Linked DNA regions of Homo sapiens: region 2 is linked to region 1. The links come from fine-mapping of genetic effects on gene expression. A gene starts in region 1. The other region holds a variant in brackets. All regions are shown on one strand. Distances are from middle to middle. Region 1 holds the start of FMR1 (fragile X messenger ribonucleoprotein 1). Region 2 has its middle 87 kb from the start of FMR1-AS1.

Region 1 (10,317 bases):
TCCTCCTCCTGTATACTTTAAATCATCTCTAGATTATATATAATACCTAACACAATGTAAATGCTATGTAACAGTTATACTTTATTGATTTTTTATTTGTATTATTTTTATTGTTATATTGTTATTTTTAGGGGATTTTCTTTTTGAGACTGAGTCTTGCACTGTCGTCAGGGCTGGAGTGCAGTGGTGCGGTCTTGGCTCAGTGCAACCTCTGCCTCCTGGGTTCAAGTGATTCTCCTGCCTCACCTTCCTGAGCAGCTTGGATTACAGGTGCCCGCCACCATGCTCAGCTAATTTTTTGTATTTTTAGTAGAGACGGGGCTTCACTATGTTGGCCAGGCCGGTCTCGAACTCCTGACCTGATAATCCCCCCACCTTGGCCTCCCAAAGTACCAAAATTACAGGCATGAGCCACCCCTCCTGGCCATTTTTAGGGGATTTTTAAAGAATATTTTTGATCTGTCATTGGTTGAATCTGTTGATGCAGAACCCATGGATACAGAGGGCCAACTGTAGATAAATGGAACAAAATAAAGATGCCAGAATTAGATCCATACAAATACAGTCAACTGATCATTGACAAAGGAGCAAATAATTCAATGGAGAAACAATGGTCTTTTCAACAAACGGTGCTGGAATAACTGGACATTCATATGCAAAAAACAATCTAGACACAGACCTTATATCTTTCACAAAAATTTACTCAAAATGGATCATAGACCTAAATGCAAAACACAAAACTGTAAAACTTCTGGAAGATAACATAGGAGAAAATCTAGGTGAACTTGTGTTTGGTGATGACTTTTTGGGTACAATGCTAAAAGCACGATCCCTGAAAAAAACTGAACAGTCGAAATTTTTTCATTACAAATGTCTGCTCAATGAAAGACATTGTTAAATGAATGAAAAGACAAGCCACTGTCTGGGAGAAAATATCTGCAAAATACATAATCTGATAAAGGGCTGATATCTAAAATATATAAAGAACACTGAAAAATCATCAATAAAAAAAACCCAATGGGTAACAGATCTGAGCAGACACCTTATCAAAGAAGATACATACGTGACAAACAAGCATAAGATGCCCAATGCCATATGTCATTAGGAAATTGCAAACTAAAACAATAAGATTCTACTATGCACCTATTAAAATACCCAAAATTCAAAATACTGGCAACACCAAATGTTGGCAAGGATGTGGAGTAACAGGAAGTCTCACTCATTGCTGGTGAAAATGCAAACTGTTACAGCCACTTTGGAAGATCATCTGGTAATTTTTGATAAAGCAAAACATAGTCTTACCATATGATCCAGCAATCATGCTCCTTGGTATTTACCTAAATGAGTTGAAAACTTATGTCCATACAAAAATCTGTACAAGAAAGTTTACAGGAGCCTTATTCATAATTTTAAAAGACTGAAAGCAACCAAGATGTCTTTCAATAAATAAATGGATAAACAAACCATGGTATATACATACAGTGGAATACTGTGCACAATAAAAGAAAATAAACTATCAAGCCATGAAAAGACACAGAGGAATGTTAAATGTATATTGCTAAGTAAAAAAAAAAAAGCAGTATGAAAAGACTACATACTATATGATTCCAACTCTATGACATTACGGAAAAGGCAAAATTCTGCAGAAAGTAAAAACATCAGTGATTGCCAAGGGTTGGTTGCAGGTAGACCAGATGAATAGGTGGAACACAAGGAATTTTTTAATGCAGTGTAATTGTTCTGCTGACACTGTAATGGTGGATATGTTATGCTTTTTTCAAAACCCACAGAGCTATGCAACACAAAGAGTGAATCTTAATGTAAACTATAGACTTTAGTTAGTAATAATGCATCAGTTGTAATAAATGTACAATGCGAATGCAAGATGTTAATAACAGGAGGAACTGTAGGGGAGGAGGGAGATTAGGAAGTACATAGAAACTCTCTCCACTATCTGCTTAATTTTTCCATAAATGTAAAACTGTTCTAAAAAATAAAGCCAATTAATTATTCTTTTTCTAATATCTCATTTGAATGAGAGGTCATGGTTAAAGGAAATTGTCAGAGAAAGTGTCAAGAAAGAAGTGTGACTTTAGCTGGGTCCTGAAGGGTACATAAGATTTGAGAGTCGGAAAGGGCAGAAGGCATTTCAGCTGGGTTTGAGCCATGGAAAAGACTCAGAGGGCTCAAATTGCGAAGGAGCAGGAAATAGCACAGAATAAATCAATGCAAAGACAACAGGCAGCAATTTAATGGAAACCAAGGGCCAAGGCAGGGCTAGAAACACTGAAGCATCATTCCAATATCAGATAAATATAGGCATGAGAGCTGACTCAACCTCGGCCGGGTCCTCAACACATATTCGTTCATTCATGTAATATTTAGTAAACATTCACTATGTTCCAGACACTGTGGTAGGCACTGGGGACAAGCAGTGAATAAAACAAATGGAAATCTTTGTTCTCACTGAGCTTACACTCTAGTGAGGGGAGAGAGACAGAACCTGTCTGCTATTTTCAAGAAACAACAAAGAAAACATTATGGCTGGAATGAGAAACAATGGCCTTTTCAATAAACAGTGCTGGAATAACTGGACATTCATATGCAAAAAATAATCTAGATACAGACCTTATATCTTTTGAAAAAAATTTACTCAAAATGGATCATAGACCTAAATGCAAAACACAAAACTGTAAAACTTCTGAAAGATAACATAGGAGAAAATCTAGGTGAACTAGATAGATTTCATGCACTGGAATGAAGTGAAGGGGGAAAGTAGAAGGTGAGATAGCGGAGATAACAGAAGTCAGAGTATATAGGGCACTGAAGCCAGAATAAATAATGACTCTGGCTTTTACTCTGAGAGATGTAGGGAGTCACTGGGGGATTGTGAGTGGCAGAGTGACTTGATTGACACCTCAACAGGGTCATTCTGTCTTCTGTGCTGAGAACTGTCAGAGAGGGTACAACAGTGGACAGTGACTGCAGGGATACCAGCGAAGAAGTTGCTGCCATAATGCAGGTAAGAGAATGGAAGCTTGGACTATGGTTTTAGCTGAGCAAATGATCAGAAACAGAGTCTGGATTCTACAATGATTTGCTGATGGATCTGATGTGTGAAAGAGGGTCAAAATGTCTCAGTTTTAGGCTTGAGCAACGAACTGGAAGGCAGGAGCTGCCTGTAACGAGAGACAGGAGAGAAAGAGAGAGAGAGAGAGAGGACTTTGGAAGAGCAGGCTCATGATCAGGCCTGAGCTCAGTGTCTGAATTCAGGTAAGCTATCTTGAAAGGGGAAATATCAAAAGCTAGAGATCAGAGTAAGGCTGAGACTCAGAGTCAAGTGGGGAAGACTAAGTTGCAGTATGTACTGGCAGTGAAGATAAGTATTTATTCATTCATTGAACATACCTTGAAATCAACCACTTTTAATGTGCCAGGGACACAAAGATAGAAAAGACATTTGCCCTGTCTGGAAGGTACTAATAATCCAATAAGGAAAACAGAAATATAAATAAATTATTCTAGTACACTAACCATCATAGTAGAGGTATTCAACATTTGTTGAGTCTCTGCTATATGCCAAGCAGTGTAATGAGGAAGCAGAGGGTATGCACAAAGTTCTACAAGAGCACAAAATAAGTTCTGGCAAAGGTTTGTAAAGACATTCACAAGGGTTTTCACCACAGTATGACTTCAGGGAGTTGGCAGTAACCTAGATGCCCGATCAGTAGGGATATGTATGAATAAAATTTCTGGCATACTCGGTAGCAAACTAGGTGTACACACAGCAATGTGGGTATAGCTCAAAAACAGACTGTTGAGTAAAACAGTGGGAAATAGAGATTTACAGTCCAATACCATCTCTGTAAATGCAAGAGGCATAAACAAAACATTATCTGTGTTAAATTATCAAGGATCTCTATCGAACATATTGCAGCTTGTGTCTAGAAGAATGAGAGTGGGGATCGAGAAAGATGAGGAAAAAATAATATAAACACTATAAAATAATGTAAACAAGGACCCTGTAGGGACTGATATGACAATGTGCTGAAAATTGAGGAGCAAAGTTAACTCTCTGTACCTGAGATAAAATAACTAGCTAATAGGAATCCAGCTGAAAACCTTAAGGTGCAGGGCCTCTATGGGGCCCAGGAAGGATGTGTAGAGACATGAACGGATGAAAGTGCATCACAGGTTCAGGGAACAACACAGGTTGAGTGTGGCTTGTAGTAAAAATGGTTGTGAAGAGTTGACATATTTTTAAGCCCTGGGTAAATTGAACAACAGCTTACACTTGGAGGGGTATAATCATTCTAATCAATGTGTCCCCTTTTACTATAATACATTGGAGTTGCAGCTAATGCTCTGCTCCCATTCAGCCTATGATGAGATTCTCTTTCAGCCCTATTGGGTTCTTGGCCTCATGTGACTACTCCAAAGACCCTAGTCCAAAAGGTCTTTCCTGTTTGCTATGGCCTTGAGGAATGTGGCCCTAGATCCACCGCTTTAAAGCTGGAGTTCCACCAGCAGCAACATCCTCTCATTCTGGGGCACCTGCCTGGGGCAGGTCATCCTGCCTCTGCCAACTCAGTGCTATTAGTTAACTCTCACCTGCCATATTCCAGCTGGAATCATCTCCCCTTCTCCACCCCAGACTAGGTCATGTTCCGCCATCATGGAAGCGCCTATTCTTCATACCCCTTATCACAGCTGCAACTACTCATTTACTTGTCTGACAATTTGATTTATGTCCACCTACTTTGCTAGGTACTAAGTTCAATGCTGGCAGTCGTTTCTTCTTTTTTTTTCTTTTCTGTTTTGCTCACCGATTTCTCGTTAGCACTTAGCACAGTGTCTGGCACACGATAGATGCTCCGTCAACTTCTCAGTTGGATACCAGCATCCCGAAGGGAACATGGATTAAGGCAGCTATAAGCACGGTGTAAAAACAGGAATAAGAAAAAGTTGAGGTTTGTTTCACAGTGGAATGTAAAGGGTTGCAAGGAGGTGCATCGGCCCCTGTGGACAGGACGCATGACTGCTACACACGTGTTCACCCCACCCTCTGGCACAGGGTGCACATACAGTAGGGGCAGAAATGAACCTCAAGTGCTTAACACAATTTTTAAAAAATATATAGTCAAGTGAAAGTATGAAAATGAGTTGAGGAAAGGCGAGTACGTGGGTCAAAGCTGGGTCTGAGGAAAGGCTCACATTTTGAGATCCCGACTCAATCCATGTCCCTTAAAGGGCACAGGGTGTCTCCACAGGGCCGCCCAAAATCTGGTGAGAGAGGGCGTAGACGCCTCACCTTCTGCCTCTACGGGTCACAAAAGCCTGGGTCACCCTGGTTGCCACTGTTCCTAGTTCAAAGTCTTCTTCTGTCTAATCCTTCACCCCTATTCTCGCCTTCCACTCCACCTCCCGCTCAGTCAGACTGCGCTACTTTGAACCGGACCAAACCAAACCAAACCAAACCAAACCAAACCAGACCAGACACCCCCTCCCGCGGAATCCCAGAGAGGCCGAACTGGGATAACCGGATGCATTTGATTTCCCACGCCACTGAGTGCACCTCTGCAGAAATGGGCGTTCTGGCCCTCGCGAGGCAGTGCGACCTGTCACCGCCCTTCAGCCTTCCCGCCCTCCACCAAGCCCGCGCACGCCCGGCCCGCGCGTCTGTCTTTCGACCCGGCACCCCGGCCGGTTCCCAGCAGCGCGCATGCGCGCGCTCCCAGGCCACTTGAAGAGAGAGGGCGGGGCCGAGGGGCTGAGCCCGCGGGGGGAGGGAACAGCGTTGATCACGTGACGTGGTTTCAGTGTTTACACCCGCAGCGGGCCGGGGGTTCGGCCTCAGTCAGGCGCTCAGCTCCGTTTCGGTTTCACTTCCGGTGGAGGGCCGCCTCTGAGCGGGCGGCGGGCCGACGGCGAGCGCGGGCGGCGGCGGTGACGGAGGCGCCGCTGCCAGGGGGCGTGCGGCAGCGCGGCGGCGGCGGCGGCGGCGGCGGCGGCGGAGGCGGCGGCGGCGGCGGCGGCGGCGGCGGCTGGGCCTCGAGCGCCCGCAGCCCACCTCTCGGGGGCGGGCTCCCGGCGCTAGCAGGGCTGAAGAGAAGATGGAGGAGCTGGTGGTGGAAGTGCGGGGCTCCAATGGCGCTTTCTACAAGGTACTTGGCTCTAGGGCAGGCCCCATCTTCGCCCTTCCTTCCCTCCCTTTTCTTCTTGGTGTCGGCGGGAGGCAGGCCCGGGGCCCTCTTCCCGAGCACCGCGCCTGGGTGCCAGGGCACGCTCGGCGGGATGTTGTTGGGAGGGAAGGACTGGACTTGGGGCCTGTTGGAAGCCCCTCTCCGACTCCGAGAGGCCCTAGCGCCTATCGAAATGAGAGACCAGCGAGGAGAGGGTTCTCTTTCGGCGCCGAGCCCCGCCGGGGTGAGCTGGGGATGGGCGAGGGCCGGCGGCAGGTACTAGAGCCGGGCGGGAAGGGCCGAAATCGGCGCTAAGTGACGGCGATGGCTTATTCCCCCTTTCCTAAACATCATCTCCCAGCGGGATCCGGGCCTGTCGTGTGGGTAGTTGTGGAGGAGCGGGGGGCGCTTCAGCCGGGCCGCCTCCTGCAGCGCCAAGAGGGCTTCAGGTCTCCTTTGGCTTCTCTTTTCCGGTCTAGCATTGGGACTTCGGAGAGCTCCACTGTTCTGGGCGAGGGCTGTGAAGAAAGAGTAGTAAGAAGCGGTAGTCGGCACCAAATCACAATGGCAACTGATTTTTAGTGGCTTCTCTTTGTGGATTTCGGAGGAGATTTTAGATCCAAAAGTTTCAGGAAGACCCTAACATGGCCCAGCAGTGCATTGAAGAAGTTGATCATCGTGAATATTCGCGTCCCCCTTTTTGTTAAACGGGGTAAATTCAGGAATGCACATGCTTCAGCGTCTAAAACCATTAGCAGCGCTGCTACTTAAAAATTGTGTGTGTGTGTTTAAGTTTCCAAAGACCTAAATATATGCCATGAAACTTCAGGTAATTAACTGAGAGTATATTATTACTAGGGCATTTTTTTTTTAACTGAGCGAAAATATTTTTGTGCCCCTAAGAACTTGACCACATTTCCTTTGAATTTGTGGTGTTGCAGTGGACTGAATTGTTGAGGCTTTATATAGGCATTCATGGGTTTACTGTGCTTTTTAAAGTTACACCATTGCAGATCAACTAACACCTTTCAGTTTTAAAAGGAAGATTTACAAATTTGATGTAGCAGTAGTGCGTTTGTTGGTATGTAGGTGCTGTATAAATTCATCTATAAATTCTCATTTCCTTTTGAATGTCTATAACCTCTTTCAATAATATCCCACCTTACTACAGTATTTTGGCAATAGAAGGTGCGTGTGGAAGGAAGGCTGGAAAATAGCTATTAGCAGTGTCCAACACAATTCTTAAATGTATTGTAGAATGGCTTGAATGTTTCAGACAGGACACGTTTGGCTATAGGAAAATAAACAATTGACTTTATTCTGTGTTTACCAATTTTATGAAGACATTTGGAGATCAGTATATTTCATAAATGAGTAAAGTATGTAAACTGTTCCATACTTTGAGCACAAAGATAAAGCCTTTTGCTGTAAAAGGAGGCAAAAGGTAACCCCGCGTTTATGTTCTTAACAGTCTCATGAATATGAAATTGTTTCAGTTGACTCTGCAGTCAAAATTTTAATTTCATTGATTTTATTGATCCATAATTTCTTCTGGTGAGTTTGCGTAGAATCGTTCACGGTCCTAGATTAGTGGTTTTGGTCACTAGATTTCTGGCACTAATAACTATAATACATATACATATATATGTGTGAGTAACGGCTAATGGTTAGGCAAGATTTTGATTGACCTGTGATATAAACTTAGATTGGATGCCACTAAAGTTTGCTTATCACAGAGGGCAAGTAGCACATTATGGCCTTGAAGTACTTATTGTTCTCTTCCAGCAACTTATGATTTGCTCCAGTGATTTTGCTTGCACACTGACTGGAATATAAGAAATGCCTTCTATTTTTGCTATTAATTCCCTCCTTTTTTGTTTTGTTTTGTAACGAAGTTGTTTAACTTGAAGGTGAATGAAGAATAGGTTGGTTGCCCCTTAGTTCCCTGAGGAGAAATGTTAATACTTGAACAAGTGTGTGTCAGACAAATTGCTGTTATGTTTATTTAATTAAGTTTGATTTCTAAGAAAATCTCAAATGGTCTGCACTGATGGAAGAACAGTTTCTGTAACAAAAAAGCTTGAAATTTTTATATGACTTATAATACTGCTGTGAGTTTTAAAAGTAAAGCAAAAGTAAACTGAGTTGCTTGTCCAGTGGGATGGACAGGAAAGATGTGAAATAAAAACCAATGAAAAATGAACTGCTGTGGAGAAGTGTTACATTTATGGAAAAAGAAATAGGAACCTTGTTCATCAAATTGATAGAAAAGCTTTTAAAACTAAACAAATCAAACAACTTGAGTATAATGGAATTCAGACTTTGATTTGCCTAACATAACCACCATATTTGCAAGGACAGCTCTCTATCTTCTGGTGTTTATTCTTAAAAACTTAAAAGTTAGATTTAGCGATCACCAGAGCCACTACTTTTATGCTTAGGTATTTGTTTGACTTAGAAAAAATTGGTCACGTGTACCACTTTATAGTGCCCTGCAGGTGTTAAGATATGAAGGCACTTTGACTTACACCTCATAAAATCTTTACAAAGTATTTTCTAAATGAATAATGATGAAATAAAGTCTTTATTCTAGGTGCATCTGCCCCACATAATTTGTTTTCTTTGGACTAGAAGTTTTGATGTGTTGAGAATGGTAATGAATTAACTCCATTTTAAATGTAGAATGCGTATCACTCCAATATGAATGCCCTAATGAATCCTAAGATTTGTAGGTTTTGTGTACTAGTATGAAAATTACTAAAGATGGAAAAATCACATGTTGGAGACATAAGATACAAACCTTTTTGTTTTCTGAAAATACAACCTCTGATTTCTGATTCCTTGTTGTAATATGGTGTAATTATACTAGATTGTAATTTTGTTGTTAGATTATACTTTTTTAAGTTCAGTGTTTGAGGACAGACTTTCATTTGGTTAGTAGTATTATGGCAGCTAGCAGCTAAATATGATAAAGTGTACAATCAAAAGGATATTTTTAATGAAGATATTAGTGGTCTAACATGTCATTTCAGATACATAGCTGAAATGTAGTAAAATCAGTTTTACTACAAATAAACTTGCATAAGGTTTATAAATTTATAAGTTTATAAATCAACTTGGGTAAAGTGTAAATAAACTTGCACTCGTGGTTTCTCTGAAGTCTCCTGAGCTAACTTTGCATAAAGGTGTTATTCTGTACTTCGAGGAAGTGAATTATTGGGGTCAACCACATTTTTTTTCCTTCCTACAGTCTGATTGCCCTTTTTAGTTTTTAGGATCTTTGTGGCTGCATCATTTTTCCCCTTTTGAACTGTGCATTTTCTAACCCCATACTTAAATATTCTCATAACCTCCAAATTATTAATTAGATGCAACATTCAGTGGTATATTACTGGAGTTTCTGATTTCTGCCCACTATAGGAATGTGCTTCCTGAGAAGATTGGGATCGTGATTATAATAATAGTTAACAGGGGATGAGTACTTTCTAGGTGCCAGGCACTGTTCTCTCTGATACTTTATTTGATGTATTGTTGTTATTCCCATTCTTTAAATGATGCACAGAGAGGTTAGGTAAGTGACTTACTACCAAGTGTCAGGGCCATTAAGGGTCAGGATTCTGAATTCCTGAAATGATGAAATTTAGCTTGAAGAAATTGGTTTGATTTCCTGCTTAGTTTTCAATTTCATGGTGGTCTTTGATTGTATTTTGTGCTATAACACTGCCTTAGCATCCTATAACTATAGTTACAGTGTTATATTACCATTTTTTATTGTTAATACAAAGCCATCATGAAATAATTCAGTTTATGTGCCAGCTTTTTTTGTTACTAATTCTTGAACCTTGGCGCTGTACTTCTTCATGTGGATGCCTGTTAAGGAAAGATAAAGTTAGAAATCTTTGACCCTGCTAGGAAATTTGTCTTTGTTATATTGGGAGCTCATAAAACTGAAGTATTCAAAAGTTAGAATACATACACACAAGAAAAATTAGTAACTAATTTAATAATGTTTTCTTTGCACATGTCTCTGTTGTCTTTTGGTCAGAGTGAAGCTAAATGTGTTTTTCACATAATTTGTAGCCTATATGAAGTCCTGGACATGTGGTATGGTTGGAAGGACTGTTGATGAGGTTTA
Region 2 (10,317 bases), 86 kb before region 1:
TCCCAGCAGGGGTCAACAGACACCTCATACAGGAGAGCTCTGGCTGGCATCTGGCGGGTGCCCCTTCTGGGACGAAGCTTCCAGAGGAAGGAACAGGCAGCAATCTTTGCTGTTCTGCAGCCTCCGCAGGTGACACCCAGGAAAACAGGGCCTGGAGTAGACCTCCAGCAAACTCCAGCAGACCTGCAGCAGAGAGGCCTGACTGTTAGATGGAAAACCAGCAAACAGAAAGGAATAGCATCAGCATCAACAAAAGGGATGTCCACACAAAAACCCCACCCGAAGGTCACCAACAACAAAGATGAAAGGTAGATAAATCCATGAAAATGAGGAAAAAGCAGTGCAAAAAGGCTGAAAATTCCAAAAACCAGAATGCCTCTTCTCCTCCAAACGGTCCTCCAAAGGATCACAACTCCTCGCCAGTGAGGGAACAAAACTAAATGAAGAATGAGTTTGACGAATTGACAGAAGTAGGCTTCAGAAGGTGGGTAATAACAAACTCCTCTGAGCTAAAGGAGCATGTTCTAACCCAATGCAAGGAAGCTAAGAACATTGAAAAAAGGTTAGAGGAATTGCTAACTAGAACAATCAGTTTAGAGAAGAACATAATGACCTGATGGACCTGATGGATCAGAAGAACTTCGTGATGCATACACAAGTATCAATAACCAACTCAATCGAGTGGAAGAAAGGATATCAGAGATTGAAGATCAACATAATGAAATAAAGCATGAAGACAAGATGAGAGAAAAAAGAATGAAAAGGAAAGAACAAAGCCTCCAAGAAATATGGCACTTTGTGAAAAGACCAAATCTACACTTGATTGGTGTACGTGAAAGTGACAGGGAGAATGGAAGCAGGTTGGAAAACACTCTTCAGGATATTATCCAGAAGAACTTCCCTAACCTAGCAAGACAGGCCAACATTCAAATTCAGGAAATACAGAGAACACCACAGAGATACTCTTCGAGAAGAGCAAACAACTCCAAGACACATAATTGTCAGATTCACCAAGGTTGAAATGAAGGACAAAATGTTAAGGGCAGCCAGAGAGAAGGGTCGGGTTTCTGACAAAGAGAAGCCCATGAGACTAACAGCAGATCCCTCTGCAGAAACCCTACAAGCCATAAGAGAGTGGGAGGGTAATATTCAAAATTCTTAAAGAAAAGAATTTTCACCTAGAATTTCATATCCAGCCAAATTAAGCGTCATAAGCAAAGGAGAAATAGAATCCTTTACAGACAAGCAAATGCTGAGAGATTTTGTCACCACCAGGCCTGCTGTACAAGAGGTCCTGAAGGAAGCACTAAATATGGAAAGGAAAAACCCGTACCAGCCACTGCAAAAACATACCAAATTGTAAAGACCATTAACACTATGAAAAAACTGCATCAACTAACATGCAAAATAACCAGCTAGCATCATAATGACAGGATCAGTTTCACACATAACCATACTAACTAACCTAAAATGTAAACAGGCTAAATGCCCCAATTAAAAGACACAGAGTGGCAAATTGTATAAAGTGTCAAGACCCATTGGTGTGCTGTATTCAAGAGACCCATCTCACATGCAAAGACACACATAGGCTCAAAATAAAGGAATGGAGGAAGACTTACCAAGCAAATGGAAAGGAAAAAAAAAAAACAGGTTGCAATCCTAGTCTCAGATGAAACACACGTTAAACCAAAACAAAGATAAAAAAAGACAAAGAAGGGCATTACATAATGGTAAAGGGATTGATGCAACAAGAAGAGCTAACTATCCTAAATATATATGCACCTAATACAGGAGCACACAGATTCATAAAGCAAGTTCTTAGAGACCTACAAAGAGAGTTAGAGTCCCACACAACAATGGTGGGAGACTTTAACACCCCAGTGTCAGTGTTAGACAGATCAATGAGACAGAAAATTAACAAGGATATTCAGGACTTGAACTCAGCTCTGGACCAAGAGGACCTAATAGACAACTACAGAACTCACCGCCCCAAATCAATAGAATATACATTCTTCTCAGCACCACATAGCACTTATTCTAAAGTTGACCACGTAATTGGAAGTAATACAGTCTTCAGCAAATGCAAAAGAACAGAAATCATAACAAACAGTCTCTCGCACCACAGTGCAATCAAATTAGAAGTCAGGATTAAGAAACTCACTCAAAACCGCACAACTACATGGAAACTGAACAACATGCTCCTGAATGACTACTGGGTAAATAACAAAATGAAGGCAGAAATAAGTAAGTTCTTTGAAACCAATGAGAACAAAGACACAACATACCAGAATCTCTGGGACACAGCTAAAGCAGTGTTTAGAGGGAAATGTATAGCACTAAATGCCCACAGGAGAAAGTGGGAAAGATCTAAAATCCACACTCTAACATCACAATTAAAAGAACTAGAGAAGCAAGAGCAAACACATTCAAAAGCTAGTAGAAGACAAGAAATCACTAAGATCAGAGAAGAACTGAAAGAGATAGAGACACAAAAAAACCCTTCAAAAAATCAGTGAATCCAGGAGCAGGTTTTTTTGAAAAGATTAGCAAAATACATAGACCACTAGCCAGACTAATAAAGAAGAAAAGAGAGAAGAATAAAATAGACACAATAAAAAATGATAAAGGGGATATCACCACCGATCCCACAGAAATACAAACTACTGTCAGAGAATACTATAAACACCTCTACGCAAATAAACTAGAAAATCTAGAAGAAATGGATAAATTCCTGGACACATACACCCTCCCAAGACTAAATCAGGAAGAAGTCGAATCCCTGAATAGACCAATAACAAGTTCTGAAATTGAGGCAGTAATTAATAGCCTACCAACCGAAAAAATTCCAGGACAAGACGGATTCACAACCGAATTCTACCAGAGGTACAAAGAGGAGCTGGTACCATTCCTTCTGAAACTATTCCAATCAATAGAAAAAGAGGGACTCCTCCCTAACTCATTGTATGAGGCCAGCATCATCCTGATACCAAAACCTGACAGACACACAACAAAAAATAAAATTTCAGCCAATATCCCTGATGAACATCGATGTGGAAAGCTTCAGTAAAATACTGGCAAACTGAATCAGCAGCAAATCAAAACACTTATCCACCACGATCAAGTTGGCTTCATCCCTGGGATGCAGGACTGGTTCAACATATGCAAATCAATAAATGTAATCCATCACATAAACAGAACCAATGATAAAAATCACATGATTATCTCAATAGATGCAGAAAAGGACTTTGATAAAATTCAACACTGCTTCATGCTAAAAACTCTCAATAAACTAGGTATTGATGGAACGTATCTCAAAATAATAAGAGCTGTTTATAACAAACCCACAGCCAATATCATACTCAATGGGCAAAAGTTTGAAGCACTCTTTTTGAAAACTGGCACAAGACAAGGATGCCCTCTCTCATTACTCCTATTCAACATAGTATTGGAAGTTCTGGCTGGGGAAATCAGACAAGAGAAAGAAATAAAAGATATTCAAATAAGAATTGAGGAAGTCAAATTGTCTCTGTTTGCAGATGACATGATTGTATATTTAGAAAACCCCATCGTCTCAGCCCAAAATCTCCTTAAGCTGATAAGCAACTTCACCAAAGTCTCAAGATACAAAATCAATGTGCAAAAATCACAAGCATTCCTCTACACCAATAATACACAAACAGACAGCCAAATCATGAGTGACCTCCCATTCACAATTGCTACAAAGAGAATAAAATACCTAGGAATCCAGCTTACAAGGGAGATGAAGGACCTCTTCAAGGAGAACCACAAACCACTGCTCAAGGAAATAAGAGAGAACACAAACAAATGAAAAAACATTCCATGCTCATGGATAGGAAGAATCAATATGGTGAAAATGGCCATACTGCCCAAAGTAATTTATAGATTCAATGCTATCCTCATCAAGCTACCATTGACTTTCTTCACAGAATTAGAAAAACTACTTTAAATTTCATACGGAACCAAGAAAGAGCACGTGTAGCCAAGACAATCCTAAGCAAAAAGAACAAAGCTGGAGACATCATGCTACCTGACTTCAAACTATACTACAAGGCTACAGTAAGCAAAACAGCATGGTACTGTTACCAAAACAGAGATACAGACCAACAGAACAGAACACAGGCCTCAGAAATAATGCCACACATCTGCAACCATCCGATCTCTGACAAACCTGACAAAAACAAGCAATGGGGGAAGGATTCTCTATTTAATAAATGGTGCTGGGAAAACTGGCTAGCCACATGCAGAAAACTGAAACTGGACCCCTTCCTTACACCTTA[T/C]ACAAAAATTAACTCAAGATGAATTAAAGACTTAAATGTAAGACCTAAAATCATAAAAACCCTAGAAGAAAACCTAGGCAGTGCCATTCAGGACATAGGCATGGGCAAAGACTTCATGACTATAACACCAAAAGCAATGGCAACAAAAGCTAAAATTGACAAATGGGATCTAATTAAACTAAAGAGCTTCTGCACAGCAAAAGAAACTTATCATCTGAGTGAACAGGCAATCTACAGAATGGGAGAAAATTTTTGCAATCTATCTATCTGACAATGGGGTAATATCCAGAATCTACAAGGAACTTAAACAAATTTACAAGAAAAAAAAACAAACAACCCCATCAAAAAGTGGGTGAAGGATATGAACAGACACTTCTCAAAAAAAGACATTTATGCAGCTGACAAACATATTTTAAAAAGCTCATCATCACTGGTCATTAGAGAAATGCAAATAAAAACACAATGAGATACCATCTCACGCCAGTTAGAAAGACGATCATTAAAAAATCAGGAAACAACAGATGCTGGAGAGGATGTGGAGAAATGGGAATGCTTTTACACTGTTGGTGGGAGTGCAAATTAGTTCAACTATTTTAGAAGAGAGTGTGACAATTCCTCAAGGATCTAGAACCAGAAATATCATTTGACTGAGCAATCCCATTACTGGGTATGTACCCAAAGGAATATAAATCATTCTACTATAAAGACACATGCACACATATGTTTACTGCAGCACTACTCACAATATCAAAGACTTGGAACCAACTCAAATGCCCATCAACGATAGACTGGATAAAGAAAATGTGGCACATATACACCATGGAATACTATGCAGCCACAAAAAAAGGATGAGTTCATGTCCTTTGCTGGGACATGGATGAAGCTGGAAACCATCATTCTCAGCAAACTAACACAGGAACAGAAAACCAAATATCACATGTTCTCACTCATAAGTGGGAGTTGAAAAATGAGAACACATGGACACAGGGAGGGGAACATCACACACCGGGGCCTGTCGGGGGGTGGGGGGCTAGGGGAGGGATAGCATTAGGAGAAATACCTAATGTAGATGACGGGTTGATGGGTGCAGCAAACCACCATGGCACGTGCATACAAATTTAACAAACCTGCACGTTCTGCATATGTATCCCAGAACTTAAAGTATAATTTTAAAAAAAACTGAGAAGTAAGGGGAAGGATCCTACAGGCAAGGCAAATGGACAAATAACCTGCTTCTGTTTTCTCCCCCTTCTCATCCATCCTGTACATTGTTGCTGTGATAATTTTCCCAACACAACAATTTCATTCAGACTTTCAAGGGCATTCAGCTCACTCTTCAGCCTCACTTGCAAGACAATGGTACATACTGGCTAAGAGTGTAGGACTTAAAAAACTTGGTGGTTGAAGATATATGCTTCCACTACCTCATGAAACATCAGGAAAATTATAAAGTAATAGATGGAAACATACATACACACACACACACACATACAGAGAGAGAGGGAGAGTCAGGATAGGAGGAGACAGTAGAATCAAAATTTTAGAAGTTGGAAAGCAAAAGGACAGGTGATAACTGACTTAGCAAACACAAGAAACCTGATGGAGCCATAAAAAGGAAGGAGATCATGTCCTTTGTAGGGACATGGTCTCAATCCAGATCTGCAGAGAGGGTTCTTGAATCTCACAGAAGAAAGAATTCAAGGTGAGTTGCAGAGTGCAGTGATAAGATATTGAAAGCTACACTGTTACAGAGTAGGGCATCCTCAGAAATTAAGAGAGGAATGCACTGTCTTCAAGCTTTTCTTATATAAGTGTCCTGTCTATGCAAAGACTAAACTAAGCTGTGACTATGTGCAGGAGAGCAGACAGCATGAGAAAATTTATTATTCTGTTGATTTAAAGAAAACTATCCTTGATATTTTAGTGGGTAAGTACATCAAAGAATAACTATAATTATTTTAAACCATGTATTGTCACGGGTATTGGGACATCTAGACTTTCTGCTATTGTAGGTGTGTGTCCTTGTAGGTTTTCCTCAACTATAAACACTTTATAACCATGAATCATGGCTGGAACCGAAAGTGCCTTTTTAGTCTCAAGATGGAGCTGAACTTAAAACGGTGTCACTCTGGTTCTGCTAGGCTCCTGTTTCCCTAACAGATATTTTACTGAGGATGTCTAAGTAGCATATTAATCAATTCCATATCATATCATGGCAGACGCTGTTGGTTGCCTTTCCAAGAATTATTTTCTCTATGTATTTTTTTCTTCACTGATAGGAGCATGGTCTTGTCTAGGGAGGAATGCACCCAATCCAAACAAATCATGACATGCCATTCCCATTGACCATTGACTGGTATAGAGATGGGTATATGTGAAACTGTTTTTGGCCATCTAGATGTAAGAGAAAGTTTATTTGGGGCCATACAGTTCTACCTTACAGAGAACTATATAAAACAGGGTTTGTTTGCCCTCTTCCTTCCCATTATACTTTGTATCTTGTTGTGTGAACATCTGGAGCTTCAGTAGACATCTTGTAACCAAGAGGCAATATGCCCAGGAATGGAAGAATAGAATTATGAAAAGAGCTTGGCTTGTGGACTATGACTTTGAACACTCAAACTATGACTATCTTCTACCAGATTTCTTGTTCACTAAACAACTAATATATTCCTGGTTTAAACCACTGCTGGTTTGAGTTCTGTTACTTGCACTCAAAAACAGTACACACTGAACAATTCCATTTTTATGTTTAACAGAAAACCCCACATCTATGGATATACATATGTTCCTTGTGGATCTTTTTGCTAATGTAAAAAGGTGAAAGAAAAATGGACAACTACCAGTTGAAGAATGACTGAAGACTATTACGCAACCATTAAGAAAATATTTTGGCGGTCACTTCAGCAGCATATATACTAAAATGGAATGGTAGAGAGAACATTAGCATGTCCCTTGCACAAAGATGACATGCAAATTCAGGAAGCATTCCTTATTTTTCTTCATAAGCGAATAAGAAAGTAAGATCCTTTTCAGACAAGCAAATGCTTAGTGAATTTTTCAACACCAGGCCTGCCTTGCAAGAGCTCCTGAAGGAAGCACTGAATATGGAAAGGAAAAACCACTACCAGCCATTATAAAAACACACTGAATTACACAGACCAGTGACACCATGAAGCAACCACATAAACAAGCCTGCAAAATAACCAGCTAGCATCATGATGACAGGATCAAATTCACACACAAAAATACTAACCTTAAATGTAAATGGACTAAATGTCCCAATTAAAAGGCACAGACGGCAAGCTTGATAGAGTCATTGTGTCTGGAATTGGTGGGTTCTTGGTCTCGCTGACTTAAAGAATGAAGCCGTGGACCCTCGTGGTGAGTGTTACAGTTCTTAAAGATGGTGTGTCTGGAGTTTGTTCCTTCTGATGTTCAGATGTGTCCGGAATTTCTCCCTTTTGGTGGGTTCGTTGTCTCACTGACTTCAGGAGTGAAGCCACAGACCTTCGCAGTGAGTGTTACAGCTCTTAAAGGCAGCGCGTCCAGAGTTGTTCATTTCTCCCGGTGGGTTTGTGGTCTCGCTGGCTTCAGGAGTAAAGCTGCAGACCTTCAGAGGTGAGTGTTACAGCACATAAAGGTAGCGTGGACCCAAAGAGTGAACAGCAGCAAGATTTATTGTGAAGAGCAAAAGAACAAAGCTTCCACAGCATGGAATGGGACCACAGCGGGTTGCCGCTGCTGGCTCGGGTGGCCTACTTTTATTCCCTTATCCGGCCCCACTCACATCCTGCTGATTGGTCCACTTTACAGAGAGCTGATTGGTCCACTTTACAGAGAGCTGATTGGTCCATTTTACAGAGAGCTGATTGGTCCGTTTTACAGAGAGCTGATTGGTCCATTTTGACAGAGTGCTGATTGGTGCATTTACAAACCTTTAGCTAGACACAGAGTGCTGATTGGTGCGTTTACAATCTTTAGCTAAACAGAAAAGTTCTCCAAGTCCCCAGCCAATTAGCTAGACACAGAGCACTGATTGGTGTGTTTACAAACCTTTAGCTAGACATAGAGTGCTGATTGGTGCGTTTACAATCCTTTAGCTAGACAGAAAAGTTCTCCAAGTCCCCACCCATCCCAGAAGCTCAGCCAGCCTCACCTCTCACTGGCATTCACCACGGGACTTTGAGGCACCTAGCCTGAGGGAGCTCATCCAGACAGCAGCCCAGCAGCCGAGAGGGCTCCAGAGGGCTCCAGCAGCCCAGAGGGAGCTCATCCCAGACAATCAAGAGGAAAAGAGGGGAAGTGAGAAAGAGACGGAGACCTGCTATCGTGGCCAACGGTCCCACGAGGAGGGAACAGTGGTCCACACACAGGATTCAGCCTCTGATCAAGCCCAGCAGGCCCATGCTCACCTGGAACCTGCGCTGGCCTGTGAGCGCTGCGTGCAGCCCCGGCTCCCACCCACACCTCTCTCTTCACACTTCCCCGTGAGCAGAGAGAGCCAGCTCCGGCCTCGGCCAGCCCCAGAGAGGGGCCCTCGTAGGGCAGCGGTGGGCTGAAGGGCTCCTCAAGCACGGCCAGAGCAGACGCCAAGGTCGAGGAGGCACTGAGAGCGAGCGAGGGCTGCTAGCATGTTGTCACCTCTCATCATGACCCATTGGTATGCTGTCTTCAAGAGACCCATCTCACATGCAAAGACACACATAGGCTCAAAATAAAGGGATGGAGGAAATTTTATCAAGCAGATGGAAAACAGAGAAAAGCAGGGGTTGCAATCCTAATTTCTGACAAAACAGATTTTAAACCAACAAAGTTCAAAAAAGACAAAGAAGGGCATTACATAATGGTAAAAGGTTCAATTCAACAAGAAGAGCTAATTATCTTATATATGCACCCAATATGGGAGCACCCAGGTTAATAAAGCAAGTTCTTAGAGACCTACAAAGAGCCTTAGACTCCCACACAATAATATTGGGAGACTTTAACACCTCAATGTCAATATTAGATCATTGAGACACAAAATTAACAAAGATATTTAAAACCTGAGCTCAGCTCTGAATCAAATGGAGCTGATAGGTGTCTACAGAACTCTCCACCCAAATTCAACAGAATATACATCTTCTCATTGCCACATGGCACTTACTCTAAAATTGATCACATAATCAGAAGTAAAACACTCCTCATCAAATGCAAAATAACTGAAATCCTAACAGTCTCTCAGACCACAGTGCAATCAAATTAGAACTCAAGATTAAGAAATTGACTCAAAATAACACAATTACATGGAAATTGAAAAACCTTCTCCTGAATGACACTTGGGTAAATAATAAAATTAAGCAGAAATCAAGAAATTCTTTGAGACTAATGAGAAAAAAGAGACAATGTACCAGAATCCCTGGGATGCAGCTAAAGCAGTGTTAAGAGGGAAATTTATAGTACTAAATGCCCACATCAAAAAGCTAGAAATATCTCAAGTTAACAACCTAACATCTCAACTAAAAGAACTAGAGAAGCAAGAGCAAACAAACCCCAAAGCTAGCAGAAGACAAGAATTAACTAGGATCAGAGCTGAACTGAAGGAGATAGAGACACAAAAAACCCTTCAAAATAACAACAAAACCAGGAGCTGGTTTTTTGAAAAGGTTAATAAAATAGACAGACCACTAGCTAAACGAATAAAGAAGAAAAGAGAGAAGATGCAAATAAACACAATCAGAAATGATAAGGGGGATATCACCACTGACCCCACAGAAATACGAACAGCCATCAGAGAATACTATAAACACCTCTATGCACATAAACTAGAAAATCTAGAATAAATGGATAAACTCCTGGACACATACACCCTCCCAAGACTGAAACAGGAAGAAATTGAATCCCTGAATAGACCAATAATGAGTTCTGAAATTGAGGCAGTAATAAATAGCCTATCAACCAGAAAAAGCCCAGGACCAGATGGATTCACAGCTGAATTTTACCAGAGGTACAAAGAAGAGCTGGCATCATTTATACTAAA

The links. PIP is the estimated chance that this variant, and not a neighbour inherited with it, causes the effect. A credible set is the group of variants that fine-mapping cannot tell apart.
Region 2: its variant is the best candidate, but not a certain one, in a credible set for the expression of FMR1 in whole blood (TOPMed, PIP 0.57).

The regions. Positions count from the first base shown.
Region 1 is chrX:147,906,067-147,916,383 of GRCh38, forward strand. It overlaps FMR1 (fragile X messenger ribonucleoprotein 1), which reads left to right and starts at 5,853. Exons shown (of 17, transcript NM_002024.6): 1 at 5,853-6,164. The coding sequence starts at 6,114. It overlaps FMR1-AS1 (FMR1 antisense RNA 1), which reads right to left and starts at 5,751. Exons shown (of 2, transcript NR_024503.3): 1 at 5,576-5,751; 2 at 3,365-4,929. RefSeq lists enhancers at 5,384-5,593, 6,174-6,273 and a silencer at 5,674-6,013.
Region 2 is chrX:147,820,087-147,830,403 of GRCh38, forward strand. It overlaps the pseudogene RNU6-382P. Among named protein-coding and RNA genes, the nearest start is that of FMR1-AS1, 87 kb to the right of the region's middle. The variant T/C (reference allele first, on the strand shown) is at 4,299.